Regions from separate parts of the Homo sapiens genome. Here regions 2 and 3 are each linked to region 1. The links come from fine-mapping of genetic effects on gene expression. A gene starts in region 1. Each other region holds a variant in brackets. All regions are shown on one strand. Distances are from middle to middle.

The links. PIP is the estimated chance that this variant, and not a neighbour inherited with it, causes the effect.
Region 2: its variant is fine-mapped to the expression of TSEN54 in whole blood (TOPMed, PIP above 0.99).
Region 3: its variant is fine-mapped to the expression of TSEN54 in whole blood (TOPMed, PIP 0.96).

Annotation. Positions count from the first base shown.
Region 1 is chr17:75,511,032-75,521,153 of GRCh38, reverse strand. TSEN54 (tRNA splicing endonuclease subunit 54) reads right to left here and starts at 4,626. Exons shown (of 11, transcript NM_207346.3): 1 at 4,538-4,626; 2 at 4,244-4,408; 3 at 4,082-4,145; 4 at 3,910-3,993; 5 at 3,499-3,597; 6 at 2,107-2,159. The coding sequence starts at 4,593. CASKIN2 (CASK interacting protein 2) reads left to right here and starts at 5,617. Exons shown (of 20, transcript NM_020753.5): 1 at 5,617-5,753; 2 at 6,946-7,443. The coding sequence starts at 7,350. RefSeq lists silencers at 4,388-4,767, 5,158-5,767 and enhancers at 4,552-4,846, 5,941-6,507.
Region 2 is chr17:75,537,236-75,547,357 of GRCh38, reverse strand. LLGL2 (LLGL scribble cell polarity complex component 2) reads right to left here. Exons shown (of 26, transcript NM_001031803.2): 2 at 3,857-3,961. The coding sequence starts at 3,931. Among named protein-coding and RNA genes, the nearest start is that of LLGL2, 17 kb to the right of the region's middle. RefSeq lists enhancers at 1,850-2,652, 5,013-5,830. The variant AGGT/T (reference allele first, on the strand shown) is at 5,119.
Region 3 is chr17:75,646,568-75,651,567 of GRCh38, reverse strand. RECQL5 (RecQ like helicase 5) reads left to right here. Exons shown (of 20, transcript NM_004259.7): 8 at 303-382. ERLN (endoregulin) reads right to left here. Exons shown (of 2, transcript NM_001162997.2): 1 at 4,782-5,000; 2 at 3,594-4,197. The coding sequence starts at 4,191. The coding sequence ends at 4,003. LOC107985013 (a long non-coding RNA gene) reads right to left here and starts at 932. Exons shown (of 3, transcript XR_001753017.1): 1 at 797-932. RefSeq lists an enhancer at 4,999-5,000. The variant C/A (reference allele first, on the strand shown) is at 2,716.

The DNA of each region.
Region 1 (10,122 bases):
ACTATTGTTAACATCTTTCTTTCGTTTATGTACACACTAATCTCTCTCCATATATTTTTTTCTAACAAAAATGTCATTGTACTAGCATACTGCTTTGTGATCTTTTTTTTCACTCAATAATATATTGTGGACACAGCCCCGTCACTGCAGCATTCTTCCCTGCTGTGAATTTTTTCCTTTTTCTTTTTTTTTTTTTTTTGAGACACAGTCTCGTTCTCTCACCGGGCTGGAGTGCAGTGGCACAATCTTGGCTCACTGCAACCTCCATCTCCTGGGTTCAAGCGATTCTCCTGCCTCAGCATCCCGAGTAGTACCGGGACTACAGGCGCGTGCCACCATGCCCAGCTAATTTTTGTATTCTTAGTAGAGACAAGGTTTCACCATGCTGGCCGGGATGGTCTCCATCTCCTGACCTCATGATCCACCTGCCTCGGCCTCCTAAAGTGCTGGGATTACAGGTGTGAGCCACTGTGCCTGGCCTCCTGGCTGTGAATTAAGGCTTTAAGGCAATGCTGTTCAAAAAAGAGCCACTAGCGACAGGTGGCTATTTAAGTTTGCTTTTTTTTTTGAGATAGAGTTTCGCTTTTTCGCCCAGGCTGGAGTGCACTGGCAAGATCTCGGCTCACTGCAACCTCAGCTGCCCAGGTTCAAGCAATTCTCGTGCCTCAGCCTCCTGAATAGCTGGGACTATAGGCGCCTGCCACCACACCTGGCTGATTTTTTTTTTTTTTTTTTTTTGGTATTTTAGTAGAGACAGGGTTTCACCACGCTGTCCAGGCTGGTCTCGTACTCCTGAGCTCACGCGATCCGCCCGCGTCGGCCTCCCAAAATGCTGGGATTATAGGCGTGAGCCACCACACCAGCCTATTTAAGTTAGATTTAAATACATTTAAATTAAATGAAATTAAACATTCAGTCCCACAGTTGCTCTAGCCCCATGTATTAGACATCACAGACACAGAACATTTTCATCATTACAGAAAGTTCTATTGGACAGAGCTGCTCTAAGGGATAACCTCTCATTTGTGTGAGCCTGCCTCTTGTTCAACTCTTGTTTGCAAGTACACTGATTTTGCACAGTGAGTGTGTTCTGTGTGACTCCTCACTAAATGCAAGCTCTGTGAGGGCAGTGATTTTGCTCTTCTGTTCTCAGCGATGTGTACAGGGCCTGACCCCCAGCAAATAATAAATATCGTTGATCATTCTCACAGGTGAACCACTGTACACGTCCACGATTATTTCCTTAGGATAGGTTCCACTTTCAGAAAAGAAAAGATGTAGAGCTGGGCGTGGTGACTCATGCCTGTAATCCCAGCACTTTGGGAGGCTGAGGCGGGAGGATCATTTGAGGTCAGGAGTTCGAGACCAGCCTGGGCAACACAGTGAAACCCCATCTGTACTAAAAATAAAATAAAATAAAAAAATTAGCCAGGCATGGTGGCACACGCCTGTAATCCCAGCTACTTGGGAGGCTGAGGCAGGAGAACTGCTTGAACCCAGGAGGCAGAGGCTACAGTAAGCTGAGATCATGCCACTGCACTACAGCCTGGGCGACAGAGTGAGACTCCGTCTCAAAAAGAAAAGAAAAGATGTGCCTGCTTTAGAGCTTTTGTGACATACTGTAACTGCAAAAGCTGTACCCGTTTCCACTCCAAGTCTGAAGGTCTCTGCCTTTTACCAATGCTGGATTACTAAGGTGATGAAGGAAAAAACATTTAACCTGGCATGAAAAATGTGAAACCCTACTAATGGTAAATTCTTCACCCAGTCCTTCATTTAAGCATACACTCTACATACCTGCCTGCGCACCTACTAAGTGCCAGGCACTGTTCCAATCCTGCCTCTCAGTGCTCACACACACTCAGCTGCAGGCGCAGGTCATCTGAAGATGCGGCTCGAGTTCATAAACCAGAATAAAACAAAATGACCTGGATTCCTCCCAACCTGCCTCTCTCAGAACGCTTCCAGCAGGCGCCCCCAGTCTGTGCCCAAGGAACTGCACTCCAGCCAAGGGTTCCAGGTAAGGAGAGGCCATTTTCTACCTTAGACTAGTCAGCCAGGTCCCAGGACTAGAATATATGGAAGGGGAACAGGAAGGGGATTTACCTTGGTTGGAATCGTCGAACCACATAACCCAACCTCTTCAGGTGGCTGAAGACCTCAAAAGAAAAAAAAAAAATGAAAGCTCAGATGGCCACTCTGGAAAACACCAAATGGTTTCTCCAGACACAGGCCATCCCCACAGCCCTCTCTGCCCCTCCTGTACACCCCCAGATTCTAAACCCTGTGATTAAGGTTGGACCATGCTTCATTACGAACACCATCCCTAAAGATCTCAGGCTCTGAATTCCTGTCCTCCCACTTACCTTACTCGGCACAAATGACATTTAGCCAAATCCAAAAAAACTGATAGCCATGAAACCAGAAAACCACCACGCCCTGAAATACTTGAGTATTTTGATACAAAGCTCATAGGAGTGAAGCTGCCGATCACCATGTGAACAAAATGATGGCAGGTGGTGGGCATCTCTCCAGCCCCACACCTCCACAGATGCCGGTGGGAAGTTTCTGGTAGGGAGCCACATATTCAACCTTGTGTCCCTGCATTCATATCAGAGGAACATAGATAAGAATGTCCCCCATCCTGCTTGATCTCAGCAGGCTTTAGCACAGCTAACCACTTCCTCCTTGAAAGACCTTCTTTTGGCTTCTGTGATGCGACTTTGGTTTTTCTCCTGCATCACCAGACACTCCTCGGTCTGTTTCTGCTTCTTATCTGCCCCCTAACCTACACAGAGAGCCCCAGGGCTCAGACCCAGCCCTCTACTCTGATGGCACTCCCATACAGCCCAGTAGTTTAAATACCATCCATGTGCTCATGGCACCCATATTTACATCTAGCCTTGACCTCTCCTCACACTCCAGACTTGGATTCCAATTGTCTGTCTGCTTTACACTCACTTGGATGTCCAAGAAGCTCCTCAAAATTAACTTATCTGACACAGTTCTTTCGACTGGTCTTGTCCTCCCAAATCTGCTCCTCTTCATTCTTCCCACTCAGAAAATGACAGCACCTTCATCCACTGGTGCATGCCCAAATCATGGGCGGTAATCCTGGGTTCTTCTCTCTCCTTAATCCTGACATCCAATCCATTGGCAGTCCTATCCATTCTTTCTCCAAAATATTTCTGAGATTCATCTATTTTTCACTCACTGCAACTCTACCCACCCCCAACCTGCGACAAGCCCCTAGCTTCTCTCACCTGAATGAACAGCCCAGTCTCTTTGGATTCTCTTCCCCCACCTTATCTTCTGACAGCACTGGGGTCTATGTGAAGCCAACAGGCCACCACCACAATGTAAGCCTCGTGACAGCATAGCCCTCGTCTGCCCTGCAGCCCCAGCATGTGACACTGTGCCTGGCACCTTATGGGTACTTGTCAATACTCATTGATTCAGTGGATGGGTGGCTCCCGGAGGCGGGGTGGTGGCAGATACCTGGTACTGCAGGAAGGTCACAGTGTGGTCGGTCAGCAGCAGCTGGTAAGCTTCCTGGATAGACAGTGGCAGGTCTTGGTGGAAGAGGTGGATGGAGCCCTGGAAGTGGGGCCAACAGCTCAGCTTATGAGCCCTCACTACAGTGCCACAGAGGAATGGGGCAACTTCCCAGCTCTGATACCTCCCCCTCCCCCTCTCAGCAGCGCATCAAGAATGTGGCCAACCAGGAAAGTGGGGCAGCATCACTAATGTGGACTGGAATCCCTGCTCCCTGCAACGTACCACCTCCTGCTTTAGAAGTTTGGTTATCAGTTCTCTAAAGACCGGGTTGTGTGTGCTTTTTCTCCGATAAAACGTGTCCTTCCCGTTCTTTGGTCCCAACTCCTTCCCCACCTCCCGGGCCCCACTTACACACTCCAGAAGATACAAGGCCTCTTCCGGGTGAAGGCGCTGCCGGCCCTGCTCTGAGAAGCCCATGGTCTGCCAGAATTTGCCCTGTGTGGGGCCCAGAGCAAGTGTCACAAGGGAGGGAGGGCAGGGAGGGCAGGGAGGGCGGTCCCCGGTCCCCGAGCCCGCCGCTCACCGCGGGAGACTTCAACTCCACGAAGCCCTCTTCTGGCCTCCACTCGGCAGCCACCAAGCTGCCCCTGGCGAGGAGTGGGGAGGGGTCTGCGTCAGTCCATTCCGGAGACCCCGCGGCCCGCCTCGCCCCCGCTTCCCTTACCCCTGGGCCCGCCCCTCTCACAGGCGCTCCACGCGCTGCTCTGCCAGCAGCTGCCAGAGCTCTTCCCGGCACCGGCGCAGCCGCTCGGCCTGAGCTGCCGAGCCGTCGGGCAGAAAGTCCTTGGGGCCATGCGAGCGCTGGGGCAGCTTCTGCGACCGCGAGCGGGCGGCGAAGAGCTCCCGGGCGCTGGGGGAGAAGGGGACGCGGGGTCAGCGCCGCGCATCGGGGGCCGCCTGGCCGGGTCCCGGGCGCCGGTTTCCCTACCCGCGCTGGCCCCGCGCCCCCGACACCCACTCCGGCCGGGCCGCGCCGCACCTGAGCACGCGCCCCGCGGGAACCTCCACGGCCGCGGGCTCGGGCTCGGGCTCCATCCCGCCGCCGCCTGCCGCTGCGCGCGCCGCCACGCCCCGCCCACCGCCGGAGCTCCGCGCTGCCCTAGTGCCCGCCGATCCGCAATGCCGCGGCAGCCCCGCCCCCTGCACCGCCCCAGCCCGCTCTGCGCCCTCCTGATTGTCCCCGGTCCTAGCGCCCGCCCGGAAGCGCACCCCGACGCCGGGTCTGGGAGCTCAGCCCGCAGGTTGCTGGAGATGCAGAAGGCCCCTCTTTTGCCCCTAGCCCTCCTCGGGGCTTCTCTCCAGTAAAGCCTGAGGAGCCGGCGTCTGGAGTGCAGTGCGAATGGTCACACTTGTGACCGCCCCTCTGCAGCCTCGCGCTGCTTAGTCCCCACCGCCCGGGCTGGGCAAGGAGGGCAGAAGGGCTCAGGGAAGGACGAGCGGAGGGTGTGCAAATTCCGACTTTGCAGGCCGAAGGCCACCCGGGAACTGTCAGGAGCGGTCCGGGGAGGTTCGCCATTCCTTCGGTGTCTTCCGTCCGGTCCCTACGGCTGGGCTCCGAAGCCAGGTTTCGAGGGCCGGGGGCGGGAGGCGCTGTCCGGCCCACGACGGTGCTGAAGCGCCACCTCCGCCCGGCACGAGCGCCTCCTCGAGGCTGGGGTCCCCGCACTGGTGCCGTCCGCTAGGTGGTGCCATTGCCCGGCCGGCGGCTGCGGGTGGGCGACGCCGGCCGCAGACGGGGGGTACTGCAAGTGGGGTCCCGCGTCTTGGTTGCCAACCCCCTTCACATTACGTCTTCTCTCCCACCAGTCAGACCCGGGGTGTCTAGCCCTTGGGTCTAAGTCCAGAGCCCCAGGTCACCTCTGCCCCCGCGCCCCCCGCCCCTCCGTTTCACCTGGGCGCATGCGCTGATCCGGTCAGCGCCCCCGGTCCGGGCGGGCACGAGTTGGGGCGGGATCTGGCGCGGATGGGGGCGGAGCCGCCGGTGCTGACTGACAGCCTGACTGCGCGGCCGGGACGGTCCCTCCGTTCCCGATCCGGCGGGAGGGAGGGGGGAGGGGCGGGATTTCCTGCGGGAGGCGCCGAGCCGGCCTTGGAAAAGGAGAAGGAGAAAGGGGGGCAGGGGGGAGTGGGAGCCACCGTCCTGAGTGCCAGGGACCGAGCAGGGCCAGCCGGACCCCGGCGGGCGGCCGGGAGAGGTGAGGCTGCGGGGCCCGCGCTGGGGGTCAGCGCCCCTGGGGGCGGGCGCAAACTAACTTTTCTTGCGGGGTCGGCGGGCACCTCCATCTCCCCGCTCCTTCCGTCCTCCTCGCGCCCCTTTTTCCATCCTCCGCGTTTATACCTCGGGCGCTTGGCCCGCCCGGCTTCTCCCGCCGCTTTGTTCCCCGGTGGGCCTGGGCTGGGCTGGGCTGGGCTGGGGGGTTGCGAGGCGCTGGAGGGACATTCCGGGGGGCGGGGGAGCCAGCCCGACCCCAGGCACTGCCAAGGGCGCCCTCCGCCCGTGTCGGCCGCGGGCTCCGCGTGGGAGTGCCCCTGGGTTGGGCTTGGGACGTTTGGGGAGTGAGGGGTTCCCGGCCAGGGCCCCAGGCCTGCGCGGATCTCATGCCACAAGACTCTGGCAGTAAATTCGCTGCCACCGAGAAACTGACGTAAGCTTCTCTGCGGTGGAGTCCAGGGTCTGGGCTTCAGGTTCAGGCTTGGGGGGCTTGGGAGCCCCGTTTGTCAGCAGTGCCCCAGCTCTCTCTGTTCTCTGCCCAGCTGCTCCTCCACCCGACACAAGGGGCGAGGGCGGGTCAGCAACAGGTGCTGTGCAGCTTCCCTCTCTAGCAGGCAGAGCCCCCAGAAATGGGGGGCCAGAAGCACTTCATGCTCTCCGTTCACAAAGAGTCCTAGGACTAGGGCATCCAGCCATTAAAGCGAAGCCTTGAAGCCTCCGTAGGGAGGAATCTGGGGGCTGGTGCCTTTGACAGGGAGTGACCCCTGCCCGCCTGCCTGTGCCTGACCCTCCCGGCCCCACCTCCTGGCCCGCCAGTTGTCTGTGGGTGTCGGAGCCTCGGGCTGTGGAGAACAGGCTGCTGGCCCGGCCTGCCCCAGTATGTCATGCTGCCAGGGCCCCTCCTGCCCAAGGTTGAGGTACTGCCAGGTGCCCTGGGGCCCCAGTGACTCAGCCTCCCCCTCCCAGAATGCCACCTCCCCCCCACCAATACTCCTCTCATGCATAGCAGCTTCCTCCCCACTTTCAGTGGCTCAGCATCACCATCGACTCCGAGGGGAGCCAGGGTGGCTTGGGGGCTCCCTGGAGGTCTTGTCCTGCTCATCCTCTGCACTCCACTTCTGGGACCCTTGCAGGCTGTGGCCCAGCATTCGACAGAGGCCCCGTGCTTTTTCCAGAGCCCTGAGACCAGTGCACCGCTGCTGCCTGAGGCCCAAGGGAATGCTGGCTGCTCTCTGGGTGGGCACTGGTGTTCCACAGCCAAGCCGGGAAGATTGGTGTGCCCAGTCCCAGCCCATCCTGGAGCTGTCGGAAGCCACAAGCTGATATCCATCCAGATTTCCATGTAGCCTTCACCCCCTCAAAGATTAGCTTTCCTTCGTGTGGTGGCAGTTCACGGAGCACCTTTGGGAGTATCCCTCAGTACCTGACGAGGAGCCCACTGCCTGGGACACCTGACTTGCTCCCCCGGAACCGGGAGCCCTCCAAGGGGCTGTGGCATGGCGCCCTGACGCCCCAGCTTGGACCCGTTGCCTGCCTTTGCCCTGGACTCCTGAGTGTAGAGCTCAGCCCAGGAGCCAGTATGGGTCGTGAACAGGACCTGATCCTCGCCGTCAAGAATGGAGATGTGACCGGTGTGCAGAAACTGGTGGCGAAGGTCAAGGCCACAAAGACAAGTGAGTACCGGGTGGGACGAGCATCCCGCTGAGGCCGAGCGCTCAGTTCACAGAGGCTTGGTGGGTGGGGGTGGGTCACTGTGATCTGCATATTTGAGGAGGGTGGACTGTCTTGTTCTCAGTAAGAAGTGCCTCTGTGTGAGAGAGCCAGAGAGAAAGTTGGGTCCCCCTTGCTGTGTGTCCTTAGGCAAGTCACTTAACCTCTCTGGGCTGCAGTTTCCTGGCCTGCAAAATTAGAGGGTTGAAGTACGTTCATTCACATTGTTATTGAGTGCCTATAGCTTGTCACCCAGGCTGGAGTACAGTGGCAGGATCTCGGCTCACGGGAACCTCCGCCTTCTGGGTTCAAGCCATTCTCCTGCCTCAGCCTCCCTAGTAGCTGGGATTACAGGTGTGTGCCACCATGCCCGGCTAATTTTTTTTTATATTTTTGGTAGAGATGGGGGTTTCACCATGTTGACCAGACTGGTCTCGAACTCCAGACCTCAAGTGATCCACCCACCTAGGTAGGCCTCCTAGTACTAGGATTACAGGCGTGAGTCACTGTGCCTGGCTCAGGCTCTGTTCTAAGCACTGGATCATAGTAGTGAACAAAACAGACCCAAATTCCTGTCTTCGTGGAGTTGCCTTCTAGCAGATGGTCTTTCTGATGTGTTCTTTGGAGCCATGAGATTTCTGACAGTGGGTTAGAGAAGACTGAATAGATAGAACTTCATCCCTACCCCCAACCTCAAACGCACACATTTCAACCAGAGCACCTCTATGTTCGTGTCTTAAGAGGATATCTATAAGATAGCTGTTTTTTTTTTTTGAGACGGAGTCTTGCTTTCTCACCCGGCCTGGAGTGCAGTGGCATGATCTCAGCGCACTGCAGCCTCTGCCTCCCGGGTTCAAGCTATTCTTCTGCCTCAGCCTCCCGAGTAGCTGGGATTACAGGTGCCTGACACAACGCCTGGCTAATTTTTACTAGAGACGGGGTTTCACCATCTAGGTCAGGCTGGTCTCGAACTCCTGACCTCAGGTGATCCACCCGCTTCAGCCTCCCAAAGTGCTAGGATTGCAGGCATGAGCCACCGCACCAGGCCACGAGATAGCTTTTAAAAAGGGAATTCTACTGCTTAAAAAAAGTTCAACACTCTCTAACAAGTTGCTAAAGTTTCTCTTCCCCTGACATGTGTGTCCTGGTGGGGTGTGGCCAGAGCTCATTTACTGGAGATTTTCACCTAGCCTCGAGACCTGACCGGGCTGTGGGGGATCCATGCACAAGCGGCCACACCTGAGCCCCATGTCTTGGGTACCTCTGTGGTGCGACCCCCCACAGGGAGAATAGACCTCTGGGCTTCAGGGAGGGCTCTCTGGGCTGTCCCAGGAGGCCGCTGGACTTGTCACCTTGAGATCCCAGATCAGCATAGGCAGGAGGTGGTTCCTGCCACCAGACTGAGGCAGGAGGAGTTCCCTGGATGGGAAGGTCTCCTCTGGAGTTCAGGGGCTCTAGCCCCAAGATACACCTCGGTCCTGTGCACAGGAAGGAGTCCCCCAGGCTACCTGAACACCTGGGGTATGGGTGCCAGAGGAAGGGCCTTAACCTCATGCATCCACTAGCACACTGGGGCAGGAGACGCAGGGCCTGGAGAGGTGGAGCTGTGGGGTGGTCTCTGTGCCTAGGGAAGTGGACACAGGGTGGGTGCCACTGGGGAGGTGCTAAGGAGGTCCCAGGGGAGGGCCCTAAGGTCCAGCAGTGCAGCCACTCCCCTCTTCTGTCACCTCTGTGTTGTTTTTGGCAACCTGCCCAGTGGGGCCTTGGTCAAGCTGCTGCTGGCCTCACCGCTCTGGGTCCTCAAAGTGAGGCCCTCAGGAGGGCAGGCGGGAGGGGTTTGGAGGCCAGTGGCGGGAACTGCAGAGCTGGGCTCTTAGGCTCCGAGAAGTTCCCTTGTGCCCAGTGGGAAGCGTCTGTGGGGAAGGAGGTCCCTTCCCTCAGTCCCAAAGTGGAGAATTCACCCTGCGCAGGCTGTAGGCTCAGGCACAGCATGACTGGGGCCTGGGATTCCTTATGAGGCCCTGGCACTGTGCCTCCCCTCCCAGTCCTCTGAGAAGCTGGAGAGGCTGGTGACAAAAGTGAGATCACAAGGTGACATTTGCAAACCTTATAGTGTATGAAATATTATAATTTCCTCACTTGCCTGTGAGATAGGTATTTCAATATCCGTTCTGTAGATAAGGAAAGTGATGCTCAGAGAGGGTTAGTGACTTGCCTAAAGTCACACAGCCATAGCATGGCAGAGCAGAGGCAAAGCTGCACCCTGTCCCCTGTGCTCTGCACTCAGCTGCCCATCAGTATTACCTAGGGATTGTTCTGTTCTTTTCTTTTTAAAGAGATAGGGTCTCACTTTGGGAGGCCGAGGTGGGCAGATCACTTGACGTCAGGAGTTCGAGACCAGCCTGGGCAACGTGGTGAAGCCCCGTCTCTACTAAAAATACAAAAATTAGCTCAGTGTGGTGGCAAGTGCCTGTAGTCCCAGCTACTCAGGAGGATGAGGCAGGAGGATCGCTTGAACCTGGGAGGCAGAGGTTGCAGTGAGCTGAGATTGTACCACTGCACTCCAGCCTGGGCAACAGAGCAAGAGTCTGTCTCAAAAAAAAAAAAAAAAAAAGGACAGGGAAAGAGATGGGGTCTCGCTA
Region 2 (10,122 bases), 26 kb before region 1:
GGCTGCAAAGTCCCTGCCCCTAACCACTACCTGGCCCCTCTGATGCCTGGCACATAGCCCTCGGTGAACTGGAGTTACCGCTCTGACAGCCAGTTCCTGGCAGAGTTCAGAGACTGTTCGCAATCACAGATCCTCTGGAAGTACTGAAGCCAAAGAAACAAGACGTCTCCCTCTCAGGACCCCCGGGGCGATGTCCTTGCTCTCTTTGAGGCATCGGGCTTGGTGTGGGTATAAAGGAGTTGAGCCAAAAGGTGTTGGACAAAAAGGCCAGAACTGGTTCAGAAGCCAGTGTCTACAAGCCACCTGGGGTCGAGCTGTGATGGCGCCACTGTCCCAGCTGTCACAGTACCCAGCAGACTGGCCTTCCAGGACCACTGGAAGAGATGACCTGAGTTGCCAGCATGAACACTGTCTGGGGCCTGACCCTCGCCTACACCAACAGCCCACGTGCCGCTCCAGGCTCCAGCCCTGGGTATCCCACCGTCCGCTGGACCTGCCCTCCGCCTGTCTGCTGGACCTGCCCTCCGCCTGTCTGCTGGACCTGCCCTCCGCCTGTCTGCTGGACCTGCCCTCCGTCTGTCTGCTGGACCTGCCCTCCGCCTGTCTGCTGGACCTGCCCTCCGCCTGTCTGCTGGACCTGCCCTCCGTCTGTCTGCTGGACCTGCCCTCCGCCTGTCTGCTGGACCTGCCCTCCGCCTGTCTGCTGGACCTGCCCTCCGCCTGTCTGCTGGACCTGCCCTCCGCCTGTCTGCTGGACCTGCCCTCCGCCTGTCTGCTGGACCTGCCCTCCGCCTGTCTGCTGGGCCTGTCCCAAGGCTCCCCCAACTCAACCTCAAGCCACATGACACCCACCACAGAACGATGCTGCCGGACACTGCAGCCGCCAGCCAGACGTGGCCTTCGATTCGTGCAGGAACTCATGTAGTCCTCACACCAACTCTATGGATGGAGTGGCTCTGATTATCATTATCTCAGAGGCATGTGACCTGCTCAAGGTCACACAGCTGGCGAGCCGGGCAGTCGGCACCACTCACCTCTGGGCAAGCTGCCTCTCCAAAAATGGAGAGCACTGTTGTTGCGATTGTGTCCAAATCAAAACGATCAAAATACATTACTTTTCCTCAAATCTGTTCTTCGCCACTCCTGGCCTGGGCTCCCCCTCCCAAGGCCTGGCACCACCACCTACCCAGGTCAGAGACTTCACGGTCATCCTGCACACCCGCCTCCCCTCCCCATCCCCTCCCTCTTTACTGCCCCATCAGCAGATCTCAGCCCTGAATAGTTCTCTATTCCATGGGTCTCAAACCAGGAGCGATTTTACCCCTCAGGAAACATTCTTGGTTGTCACATCTTGACAGGCTGTGTGTGTATGTATGTGCTACTGGCATCTAGTGGGTAGGACTAGGGACACTGCTAAATAATCTACAACGCACAGGACAGCCTCCGCAGCACAGCCAGCCTCAAATATCATCTGTGAGTGCTGAAGTTGAGAAACCCTGCTCAATTCATGCCTCGTTCCCATCCCCACTGGCTGGGCTTCCAGTCCCTTCCTTCTGGGCTGTCACCTATCTTAGTCGGGGCAATGTCTCCTAACTGCTCTGAGCTTACCTGCCTTGCCCAAAGGGTAAAAACATCTCCAGGTTTATCTTTCCTACATTGTAAATGGGACCACTATTCACTCCCTTGCTCACAACCCCTGGAGCCGCAGGGTCAGATCAGGCCCAGATACCAGCAGCCTCCCTGCTTCACAGCCTGGGCTGGGGAGGGGCAGGGCAGACGGGATCCCAAATCCTCTGGGATCTGGCCTCATCCTCCAATCCCACCCTGCTGGCCCCACCACACTCCCCGAGCCGGATGAGTCTACCCCGCTCCTGAATCCCCTGGGCTCTCCCCTTCCTCCTCTCCACTTCCAAGGCCTGAAATTTCAGGCCATCAGCCTCCTCCCTCCTGCAGACTGTAAAAGTGGAGGGCAGAGGCCTAATCAGATTCCCATAGCCCTGAGCCTTGGGCTGTGGATCCAGTAAGTGCTCAATGCATGCTTCTTGCATATGAATGGAAAGAAGAAGGCAGAGCAGGAGACCCAGGAGCCTCCCTCTGCCACCCCCAGGCCTGGGAGTGGGACAATCAAGTTTGGGGATCACCCCTGGGGGATAGGGGAAAGAAGAAGGGACAACTCCTTGCCCCAGCTCCACCCTAGCCTCACTCAGCTGCACAGACAGAACTTGGTGCAAGGGGGCAGGGGTAGGGGGGTGTTCAGCCCTATTTGCTGAGCCTGTCAGGTTTCTGCCACCTTTTCAAAGCGAAAGACTGGAGGCAGATGGGGGTCACTCAGTTCCCTTCCATCTCCCGTGGACACCGAAGCTTTGAGACCCAGCACCCATAGGCTACTCCCTCCAGAGCAAGGGTAGCAGGCTGTAGGTGTCCTGAGATCTCCCATTCCCAACACCTGCACCCCCATATCCCAAGGCCCAAAAGCGAGCTGGCAGGAGGCACGTTGGGATAGGAAAGCCCTAATTCCAGAGGCAAATGTCCTCGTGGCAAAGCTCCATCAGGGACACCAACTCCTCCCACAGGCTAAGAAACACAGAGAGAAATGGCAGGGCACATTGGGAGCGCTGACCCACCTCTCCCAACGGGGAGGTCAGGGAGGTCCCTCCACCCCACGACCCACCTCTCCCAACAGGGAGGTCACGGAGATCCCCTCCAGCCCACAGCAGCAGCCAGCATTCCTGGGCCACTGTGCCTAGCACTTAAGTTACCTCACCCCACGTACGCCCTTAACAAGCCTATGGTGTGGGCGACAGGCACACGGCCATCCAGCTTCTATGTGGCAAAGTTGGGTTTGCACCTGGGCAAGCTGACTTCTACAGTTCTCAAATCAATAACAAAAATACAACCAAAGAGACTTCCTCATTCTCCACAGGGAGACATCCCTTTTCCAGACTGTCTGGTCTCACATCCACTGCTTCCTTTCGGGGGCAGGGGAGCCCAAACGGAAGCCCCCAACGAAAGCCACATGTCCTGCCCTCAGCATATTGGGAGGGTCCTGGCTCCCCGGGGGAAGAGGATCACAGTGTCCCAGTTCCTGCAGCCCACCTTCCCAGCAGAGGCGCAAAGCAGAGGTGAGAAGATCATTACCTCACAAGGCCCCACACTGCTTGGTGGCCCGGGAGCTGAAGAGCCACACTGCACGCCTCCTGCGTACAGGCCCGTCCTGACCTTCTCAGGCCCCAGACTCCTGAAGGGAAGCCCCGTGGGCCTTCTGGTACCCCGGATACAGGTTTGGGATTGGGGTAGTCCGAGGCCAACTCCGGCTCATTCTCCTGGGCACCTCTCCCCACTCACCCCGGCCGGAGCCAGAAGGAATCACGTGTTCAGCCTGCAGGGGAGCTGCATTTTCCTTCAGGGGCAATTTGAGAAGGGAGAAACAGCCATGGCCTGTGACTCCAGGGCCCCAAGGGACCTGGAACATTATCACCCCCTGAAGAGTTCATCCTTTCATCTCCCACGTCCCTAAACCTCCTTGACAACCCTGTGCCGAGGTAGACATGGCAGATCGTTTTATTCCCATGATACAGGTAGGGAAACTGAGGCTCCATGAGGTGGAGTGACTTGCAGAGGTCACACAGCCAGTGAAAGCCTTCAGATGAGAAGTCCCAACTCATGAGGGCAACCTATTCCCCTTTTCTATAAAAGCCCTTTAACCAGGCCCCATTTCCAAAGTCTGAGTCCCAAGAGGCACTGCAGGCAGTCACATAAGAGCTATACCTTAATCCAGGTAAGAGGTGCCTCAGCCCCAGCCTGAGCTGCTTGGCCGAAAACCTGGGGGTCATCTTCCCTGCTCTCCCTAACTTACCTTGTTAAACTGGAACAGGTCCCGCTTGAGCCTCTCCCGCACAGGGTCATGCCCTGGCCTCAGGAACCGCCTCATTTTGCTTAGTCTGCAGCCCCCACTGGAGACCTGGAGAAACAGAAGGAGCTGCAGGGGTCTGTCCTGGCACTCAGGTATCGATTAGGCCCGGCCCAAACAGGTGGAGCAGGGCCTCTCTCTCCAAGTCCAGTAGGCTGCCACCCCGGGGCCAGGCCAGCTTCACAGTGACCGCCCATGCACCCTGGCTTCCCCACGCTCAGATCTAGAGGCCGGCCCACCTCAGGGCTGAAGGCTGTCACCACCTGTGGCCTTATAATGGGGGTAGGAAAAGCTGGGGGAGGAAGCCATTTAGCCTGGCTTTATAAGCACAAGGAGGGCCGGCGGGCCCTGAGGTTAATTAGCTTAATTGTTAACCTGTTTTCTGAGAAACCATGAAACTCCAGCTAAGCAGAAAGGGAAACTTCGCAAGCCTCTTCCTCCAAAGTCTTGTGGAAGGTAGAAACACCAAGGCCATCCTTCCCAGATCAGAGCCCAAGTCGGGGCAGGGGAGAGGCCTGCAGTGACTCCAGGCCAGGGCACCGGGCAGATGCTTCCTCCTTCTGACCTCGGGGAAGGCTGTCCAGGGACTCTCGGCCTCAGCCTCTCCAACCAGCCACAGCCATGAGAAACTCAAGTGGGCACGGGTGGCACAGAGCACTCGGTCAGGGGGTGCTGGCCCATGCCACCGTGCCTGGGGTCTCTGCCGGTCCCCTCCCCTCTCTCTGGCTAGCCCCAGTCCAGCTTCCCTGTGCGCTCATGGGCTGTGCTCAGAAAGGTTCTCTTTCCCACGGGCCCTAGTGGAGAATAATCAGGAGGAATCTGCTCCCAATAAAGAAACCAGCTCAAGGCCCCTAAACTCTCCGCCCACCATAGAATCCATTCCCAGCCCAAGGGGAAACCATTTCTGGATTATCCTTGGGGGAAGGGGAAGGAGCCTCTGTGCTCCAGCTTCTGGCTTCCAGTAGCTCAGCCTCCTGCTGACCACAGGACAGCAAGGCCCGTCCTTGGGAAACACAGACCCTGGGCACAGCTCCGTCCACTCCCAGCAGGATGGGGGAAGGAAGCAGATCCAGGCCGCACCCTGGAGGCGCGTGCTCCAGGCAGGGACAGGTAGAGACAGGGCAGCCCAGTGTTGAGTGCTTTGACTGCAGGAGGGAGAGGGAACACCTGGCCCGAAGTGGGAGGCAGCTTAGATACCTTCGAGAAGA[AGGT/T]ATCTAAGCTGAGGTTTGAAGGATTTCGCGTTCTTGGGAGGTGGCAAAAATTAACCATCAGGTCAGGACTTTGCATATGATAGGATCCCATGTAATCTGGGCAGCGTGGGAGAAGGTAGGTAACGTGCGTGGCAGAGTTGGGGGTGTCTTCGGGCAGAGGAACCGAGGGCTTGCTGTGCTGGGAGGGTGACCCGATTTTACAAAATCGCACTGTAAAAAATGGCAGTCTTGTAATCCCAGCACTTTGGGAGGCGGAGGCAGGTGGATCACCTCAGGTCAAGAGTTTGAGACCAGCCTGGCCAACATGGTGAAACCTCGTCTCTACTAAAAATACAAAAAGTTAGCCGAGTGTGGTGGCAGACGCCTGTAATCCCAGCTACTTGGAAGGCTAAGGCAGGAGAATTGCTAGAACCCAAGAGGCGGAGGTTGCAGTGAGCCAAGATCAGGCCATTGCACTCCGGCCTGGGCAACAGAGCAAAAACAGTATCTCAAAAAAAAAAAAAAAAAAAAAAAAAAAAAAAGCAGAGCCACATCCCCCTTGAGTGAAAGGATCTGCACGGTCAGTTATCTCAAAACCGAATACCAGGAACCAGCCCCCAGAGCGCTGTCACCTTCTGGGGAAACTGAAAAAGGGGGTCATTCCGGGATGTTCCTGCCTTCACATTTTGGAGGAGTCAGACCAGAGGTGGGGATCCCACTTTGCTGGGGAAGAGCAGGTGGCCGGGAAACTCCTAGGGCCCACTTGATCCAAGGTCCCAAGGGGGTTCAGAGAACAGGCACCGGCTGGGAAAGCCCCAAGGGCTTCTGGAATGGAAGTGAGGGGACACCCAGATCTGCTGGCCCAGCATTGCAGCCTGGGGGAGGGCAGCTCACACTCATAAACCAGTTGGACTCCTGGAGGGCTCACACCCCCACCCGGGGCCCAGGCCAAGGTCACTGGGTCAGAAGTCAGAGGAAGCTTGGTGGGGGCTCCCTGGAGAGTGACCACTGCCTGCAGACTCCAGGGAGGGGACAAGAGGGCACAGGGCCATCCGTGCCAAAGACTCCACACAGGCTTAAAAGTGACAAGGCAGAACTGGGGGCTGGGAGGAGGTGCCAGTAGGAAGGAGGAAGACAGGGTGTAGCAATGGCATCAGGAGGGCGTGGACACTGAGCACCACCCACCCACCCAAATGCTCCCTGGGGCACCTGCTGTGCAGTAGGGAGTGAGTGTACCAGACCCTCTGCATCCTATTCCATTTAAAACATTTTGCTCAAGTAATCTGTGCCCATTGTAGAAAAACCAAATACAGACAAGAAAATCCTCCCTAAACCCCAGCATCCAGAGAGTCACAGTCATGGGTCGCTGAATGTCCTGGCCATCTCCTTTCCTTGGCACTGTGTGAGTTTGTGAGCGTGGAGCCCCTCACACCACCCTGATCTGGGAAGCCATCTGAAAGGTAAGCAGAACGTCCCCACTAGACAGGCAAGGAAACAGACCACAGCAGCAAAACACCCTGTCAAGGTCACCAAGTAGGAAGCGGCAGAACTCGGACTGGACCCCAAGTCAGAAGGGCTGTGGGTAGCAGTGATGGATGGATAATACAGAACAAAGGATGCCCAATGACACCCTTGCAATTAAGAGGCAGGGACACGCACAGACACGCTCCCAGATGCTGGCAGCTCAGAGCCGACCCGGCAGTCTGGGGCCTGGGGACTGGCCGCTGCTGACAGGGTGCTGGCGAGGTCTGGCTGGGCAGGGCTGGTGGCCTTGTGTGGACCTGCTGCTCTTCCCACACGGGGCTGGGACCTCATGGGCATGGGGTGATGGAGCCAGGAGGACCAAGGCAGGGTGGGCATGGTATCCCCTCACTCCAATCAACCCACTGCCCAGGTCAAGGCATGGAAAAGCACCACGCTTCCTTGAAGAGGGGGCTGGTCTAGACCTGGCGGGCCTCACCTCCAGGTGGCTCCTCAGCTCCCCACCCCAGACAAGCAGGTTCTCTGCAGAGAAACTTCAGGAAGCCAGGCCTAGAGACGCCTGGTATGAACAGATCCTGCCTACTCAGCCCATTCCTGGAGGGAGCCAGGGGTTGTAAGGGAAAGAGCCCTGGGCTAGGGGCCAACAGGCCAGGGCTCACCATCACAGCACCGCATAGCTCCCCCAAGCCACATGGCCTCCAGAGACAGCTCCTCTGTAAAGGGGGATGGCACTCCCTCCCACACAGATCCTGTAGAAGGAGCAAGAGCTTGGCATGGAGCAGACACTGTCCTAGGAAAGGGATACAGCAGTGACAGGGGAGCAACAGACACTTCACAGGACACAAATCAGAAAATGGGATGATTTCCAACCAGCCGCAGTAACTCACACCTGTAATCCCAGCACTCTGGGAGGCCGAGGCGGGTGGATCACTTGAGGTCAGGAGTTCGAGACCAGCCTGGGTCAACATGGTGAAACCCCGTCTCTACTAAAAATACAAAAATTAACTGAGTCTGGTAGTGTGCTCCTGTAGTTTCAGCTACTCAGGAGGCTGAGGCAGGAGAATCACTTGAACCTGGGAGGTGGAGGTTACAGTGAGCTGAGATCGCACCACTGCACTCCAGTCTGGGTGACGGAGTGAAATTCTGTATAAAAAAAAAAAAAAAAAAGTAACCAGAAAATGGGATGATTTCTGACAGAGGTCAGGACTATCTCTGATCAAAAAAAAGAGATGGGCTGGGCACGGTGGCTCACTCCTATAATCCCAGCACTTTGGGAGGCCAAGGTGGGAGGATCACTTGAGCCTAGGAGCTGGAGACGACCAGCCTGGGCAACATAGTGAGACCCTGTCTCTAAAAAAAAAAGGAAAGGACATTTTTTCAAATTTACATGGAACAATAAAAATTTTGAAAAGAAAGGAGGGCTGGGCACAGTGGCTCATGCTTGTAATCCACTTTGGGAGGCTACGGTGGGAGGATCACTTGAGCTCAGGAGTTCAAGACCAGCCAGGGCAACATAGGGAGACCCTATCTCTAAAAATAATAAAAACAAAATTAGCTGGGCATGGTGGCATGCACCTGTGGTCCCAGCCACTCAAAAGGCTAAGGTGGAAGGATTGCTGAGCCTGGGAAGTTGAGGCTGCAGTGAGCTATGAACCCACCACTGTACTCTAGCCTAGGTGACAGAGCGAAACTCTGTCTCAAAACAAACAAAAAGGATTAGCCAGGCATGGTGTCAAGCACCTGTGGTCCCAGCTACTTGGGAGGCTGAGGCGGGAAGATCAGTGGAGCCCAGGAGTTTGAGGCTGCTGTGAGCTATGACTGTACCACTGCACTCCAGCCTGGGCCACAGAGCGAGACTCTTGTTTCTAAAAAAAAGAAAAAGAAAGAAAAAGAGGATGCGAAGATCCAGCAACTAGGCTTTGGTGGCCAACAGGTCTCAGTGACCATTCCCTTGTCAGAGCCTGTGCGTTCCCTGTTCCTACTGCCTGGGTCACTTTCCTCCAGATACCTTCACGCCCTCCCCGACCTGAAGCTGCAATCTCCTGGGATGTTCTCTCTCCCTCCCTGCACCGCTTTTCTCCTTGGACCTGGCCACGTTTGGACACACTGAATAGCTTACTTATTAATCTTGTTGATTACCTGTGGAATCCCCCACAAGCAGCAGCTTTCTTTTTCCCATTCAAGACCTTTTGTCCTTTTATTCACTGCTGTATCCGAGTGCACACAGCGAGTCCTCACTCGTTATCTGTTGAATGAATGAATGAACAGAGGAGGCGAGGTCTCCACTGAGACTGACTGGTGGGAAGGGGCCAGCCACAGACAACTTGGGGCACAGTGTGTTAGGCAGAAGGAACAACAGCTGCAAAGCCTCAAGATGAGAGAGGCTTCTATGTTTCAGGATGAAGACAAGTGGGGGGCCCAATGCAGAGATCTGTGCAGATGACATGAGAGAGATGACAAAGTGGGCCTCCTGAGCTGTCCTAGGCAGGGACCTGATGGGGCCTGCCCACCCCCCGTTCCCTCCTCCATGTCACTGGCCCTCTCTCCTTGGCCCTGTTGGCTGCTCCATCTACTCAGCCCCACCCTGGCCCCATTCACTATGGTCCCTGCCATTCTCTGTCTGAAATACCTTCTTGCCCCCTCAATCAGCCCGGCCCCCCTTCCAGGCTGGGCGAGGTGGCTCACGCCTGTAATCCCAGCAGTTTGGGAGGCCAAGGCGGGCTGATCACTTGAGGCCAGGAGTTTGAGACTAGCTTGGCCAACACAGCAAAACCTCATCTCTACTAAAAAGACAAAAAATTAGCCAGGTATGGTGACGGGCACCATGTGGTCCCAACTACTCAGGAGGCTGAGGCAGGAGAATTGCTTGAACCCAGGAGGCGGAGGCTGCAGTGAATCGAGATTGTGCCACTGTAATACAGCCGGGGCAACAGAGAGAGACTGTCTCAAAAAAAAAAAAAAAAAAAGGTCACCTTCCAAAAAGCCTTCCCATCTGAACCCATCCTGACCATTCTCCGAGTCCTAGGAGGCTGGGAGGCTGTCCCTGTCCACCATGGTTTTAAGGGATTTTTTTTTTTTGGAGATGGAGTCTCGCTCTGTCGCCCAGGCTGAAGTGCAGTGGTGTAATCTTAGCTCACTGCAACTGTGTTTCCCAGGTTCAAGCAATTCTCCTGCCTCAGCCTCCCAAGTAGCTGGAATTACAGGTGTCCACCACCATGCCTGGCTAATTTTTTTGTTATTTTTAGTAGAGCTGTGGTTTTCACCATATTGGCCAGGCTGGTCTCGAACTCCTGATCTCAAGTGATCTGCCCACCTCGGCCCCACAAAGTGCTAGGATTATAGGCGTGAGCCACCGCACCCAGCCTGGGATCATTTTATCCTAAGGGGTAAAGGGACCATTTTATCTCAGAGTCCTGAGAATGGTCAAGATGGGTTCAGATGGGGAAGAAACACACCTTAGGATAAAATGATCCATTGAAACCATGGTGGACAGGGACAGCCTCCCAGGCTCATGCATGTCTCCTGGCCTTGATGTGCTGT
Region 3 (5,000 bases), 130 kb before region 1:
GCTGAAACCTCCACCTCCTGGGTTCAAGTGATTCTTCTGCCTCAGTCTCCCAAGTAGCTGGGACTACAGGCATGCGCTGCCACACCTGGCTAATTTTTTTGTATTTTTAGTAGAGACAGGGTTTCACCATGTAGGTCAGGCTGGTCTCGAACTCCTGACCTCAAATGATCCTCCTGGCTCAGCCTCCCAAAGTGCTGGGATTACAGCCGTGAGCCACCGCACTCGGCCTCCTCATTACTTTTTGTGGCTCTAAGGTAGTCCAATTCTATAAGACTTGCTAAGTGGTCATTTTTTGTCCCCAGGAAAAGAGAGGAAACAAAGCATCTGATAAAGCCACTATCATGGCCTTTGATGCCCTGGTGACCTTCTGTGAAGAACTGGGGTAAGTGACTTATTTTATATGTGGAGCAAAGTGTCAGTGAGATCATTTACTTCCCCGGCACGCCCTAGTTAAGCAGCTGACATAAGACAGCCCGTAGGCTACCAAGGGACACCTGCCTGCAAAGGCTGTTGTGTCGGGCAGTGTGGAAGTCAGGACCTTGCTCTTCTCTATTGGAGGCCCCGGGATCTCTCGCAGTGTGGGGATTTGCTCAGTATTCTGAGTGGTGTCCTTCCCTCCACTCCACCCTCTTCTGGGATGGCTGGCCCCACAAGCCACTCAGTTCCAAGGGATGTGACCAGCTCTGAGCCATCGGCTTTGTGGTCATCATGTGCCACCGAGCTGGGACTTCTGGCATCACTTGAGTAGTCCTCACCCTTATCCAGGACCCACACAGAAGCCTGTGGCCCCACTTACCTCGGGGAGTCATGTGCTTTGAACTCACGCATCTGTTTTACCTGCATCTGCAGGCGATGGGGCAGGGGCCACGGAAAGAGTCTGAGGGCTGCTTGGTGTAGTCAGGTTGTGTCCAGGCATGCGGAGCTGTGAGTGCCTGCAGGAGAGACACCCAGGAGGAGTTTTTACATTTTGGTCTAAAAAGCTCTTGGATTCATCTCATCTCATGGAATGATCCTGTCGGATGACGCTGACGTGATTGCTTCAGACTTAGAGGTGAATAAATTGAGGTCCAGAGAGGTCACAGTCACGAAGCTCATGGTAGACTGAGGCCACTAAACACCCGTCTCCTGATTTTCAGTGGCGTCCTCATTTGCATACACCTGGGCCATCTTGGTTTTTGCAAGAAAAAAGCGAGGAAATCAGAGAAACTCTTTGGGCTGTGTGTTTTTATTTCCACCTCCTCCTGTTGACCAGTGAGTCGGTGGCTTCTGGACTGAAGCTATTTTCTTCTCCAAACTGCTGTCTCTAATTTGGCCTCTGTGGCAAGACCACGCCCAGCAAAAGTGGTCGGCTGCAGTGCCAGGACCACCCTTGCCTGCAGCCTTTGCGACCAGAGCCCTTTTCAAGCACAATTAATATGGGAGTTGCTAAATTTGGCCTTCTTAGGCTTCTTGAGCAGAGCTCTTATTTCTGGTGAGGAATGAAAGGGCCAAGTGTTCCTGTTCATTGTGAGTCCTGTTTGCTGAAAAAAGCTCTGGGGCTGTCTGAGGCTCTGGAATGCTCTCTGGAGGGTTAACTCTGCCTGTCCCCAGGGTCTGCTCCGCCTGCCAGGCAAGGGAACAGGTCCTCCCAAGGGCCTCTGCCTTCATTTCTCCTGTCACCTTCCGGGGAGCTGGGACTTCTTAGTGCATCAGTGGCCTGGTTGCCAGGGGCTGGGGTCCAGGCATCTGTGGACTCAAGGAGTCCAGGTGACGGTGTTGCGCTGCCTCTTGAGCAGCCTCGTGCCTGTCTCCTTTGCTACATGTGATGATTCTGAAATCCAGGCAGCAGGCTGGAATAAACGCTGCTGGTATGTCTGTATTGGCTACTGTTCTTTGAATAAGTGAATGTTTCTTTATTGCATAACTGGCGTGTAGCACAAAGAAAAAGCCCCTTCTCCACCAGATATTTGCTTCCTAAGAATAGTTCTCATTGGAGGCTGAGGTCGAAGCAGCCTCCCACCAGCGATCCCTTGGGGCGGGCACCTGGCAGTGAGGGACAGAGCTAGTGGGGTGGGCTCAGCAGAAGTGGGTGCATTTCTGCAAAGGAAGCTGTAGGTTTCTTGTCAGTTTGTTGTGGGGTCTGAGGCACATGGGAGTGGGACCAGCAGAAAAGATACTCAGGTCAGTTAACTAATGAGGCGGGGCTGTGGCAGCCAGCGGTTTTCCTCTCTTCTCTATCTGTAGCTACTTTCTCTGGGCTGCAGCCTTGAAAAAGCAGTGTTTGATTATTCATAACAATGAGTGTCTTTTAGTGTCACAGGGAACAGTTATTAGGTTTGAAGCAACCTCCAGCTTGAGGCCTCGGCATCTTGAGATGGAAGAGCAGCCTTGTGTTTAGACCTGGATTGAATTGGGCCCTGTTGTTTCCTGGGATCTTGGGGCTGGGGGTGCCCAACAGCCTGGCATCTTCTTGTTTCTCTGTGTGTTTACTCATTCATTCATTTATTCAGCTGATAAATATTGACTGATGCCAGCTCTGTGCCAGGCACATTGGACATGGGGGATACACTAGTGGGCAGAAATAGCCCCGTCCCAGAGCCGGCCATGGTGGCTCATACCTGTTATACCAGCACTTTGGGAGGCTGAAGTGGGAGGATCGCTTGAGCCTGGGAGTTCAAGACCAGCCTGGGCAACATGGCAAGACCCTGTCTCTACTAAAAATACAAAAAAAAAAAA[C/A]CAAAAAACACAATTAGCCAGGCATGGTGGCACATGCCTGTAGTCCCAGCTGCTCAGGAGGCTGAGATGGGAGGATCATGTAAACTCAGAAGTCGAATCTGCAGTGAGCCGAGATGGTGCCACTACAGTGCAGCCTGGGTGATGGGAGTGAGACCCCATCTCAAAAAAAAAAAAAAAAAAAGGCCGGGCGCCGTGGCTCATGCGTGTAATCCTAGCACTTTGGAGGCTGAGGCGGGTGGATCACAAGGTGAGGAGATCGAGACCATCCTGGCTAACACGGTGAAACCCCATCTCTACTAAAAATACAAAAAAATTAGCCGGTCACGGTGGTGGGAGCCTGTAGTCCCAGCTACTCGGGAGGCTGAGGCAGGAGAATGGCGTGACCCGGGAGGTGGAGTTTGCAGTGAGCCCAGATAGCGCCACCGCACTCTAGCCTGGGTGACAGAGCAAGACTCTGTCTCAAAAACAAAGAAACAACAACAACAAAGACATATAAGTCCTGTAAATGGTGTTTCGAGAGTATAAAACAAGTGGCCTTACCCTAATCCTTGAGGGTTAGGGAAGATTTACCTGAGGGAGTCAGGTTCAAACGGAGATACAAAGGATGAGGAAGGACTAACTAGGCCATAGAGTAAAGTGTGGTGTGAGGGAGAGCATCCCGGTCAATGAGAATAGCATGTGCAAAGGCCCTGTGGTGGGAGAGAACACAGCATATTCAAGAACTGAAAGACACGCTGAGAACCCAGGGGCAGGGCAGGATGGGGTGGGCAAGATGGCTGGAGACAGGCAGGCTAGAGCGTGCAGGCCCCGGTGCGGCTTTGTTCGGGAAGCTTGCTCTGGTGGCTCTATCTGGATTAAAAATGAGCTCTCACAAGTTAGCAGATTTGAAAAGGAATTTTTATTTCATTTGGTTGTGTCTTTCTCTGTCAAGGATTTGTGAAATTGCTGGCTGGGCCTGTGAGCCTGTTAGAGAACCTTGTTAGCCATAGCTCCTTCCACCTGAGGCAGTGGAGCCATCCTCTCCATGTGCTTTTAGGGTTCTGGTCGGGGAACCCTAAAAACAATAGGGTCAAGGAGCCAGAATTGGTCTCAGACCAGCCTCCCCATCTTACTAGTCTGACCAACCCTAAGCCAGATACAGTATTTTACTAGACTTTTTCCTGATGGGAAAGGAAGACACCAGGGCTTGGCCCCTGAGCCAGAGGGAACCGCGAAGGGGCCCACCACTGGAATGGGGGCAGGTCAGCTCGCCTCCCCTGCTGCCATCTCAGTCCCCAGCAAGTCAGGTCACTCCTCTTCACCCGCTTCACACTGAGTGTTTTCTGTGGAAGTGAGTAAACCAAACACGATGGCAAATAAGATGAGAAGCAGGACAGCGGTGATGAATAAGATAATCACTGCCAGGCCCCCCTGGTCCCAGGGGTTCTGCCAGAACGCATCATTCCAGATTGTCTCTTTGAATACCAGTTGGTCCATGAGAATCTGGAAAAGAGGGACAGAGGACCTGAGTGCAGGCAGCCCTCCCAGGCCCTGTCCCAGGTGCTATGCTCTGCCCGCCGACTCCAGCCTCTGTAGCAGCCTCTGTGAGCAGCCGGCCCGCCTGGCAGCCAGGGGACATGAAAGGGCTAGAGTCTTTGTGCTGGATGCCTGCAGCCAGCAGCAAATGGCATTTCCCCCGCTCTAGATACAGGAGCCAGGACTGGCGCAAGAAGTGGGGCCCTGGATTCTTCCTAGGGGATGCCCCTGGATTCTCCAGTCCTTCTTTCCTGAGTAGCAAGTGTGAGCAAGGACTCTCTCTCATCCCTGAGACCTACTTGGCTAGAATCTAAAAAGCATCATGATAGAGTCTCCCTGTTTTTCCTGCCCCAACTGCCAAACATTTGGGAGGCATTTGAGAGAGCGTATAGGAGCCGAGGAGGGGCCAACTCCAGCTGAGGCCTCGGTAGCCTCCTTGGAGCAGCTGAGAATAGAACTTAGGAGTCCTCTAGAAGCGGAGCTCCTTATCGCAGACTGCAAGCCCATAGCCAGGTGAGGGCAGCCCAGGTGGAGAAGGAGGGAGCCATTACCTGATTCTGCTGGTAGCTGTTCTGGGTCCTACAAGGGCAATTCAGGGTGGTCCTTCAGGCTCACACTTTGTGGAGGGCTGAGCTGAAGAGGCCGCCAGGTGACCAGAGCTGCACCCTGACTCAAAGAAGCAACTGTTGAGAGGAAAAGGCATGAGCGTGGCCAAGCGGCCCTGACCAGACCTTAGTTGCTGTCACCAAACAAACAAAGGTGGGCTAGGG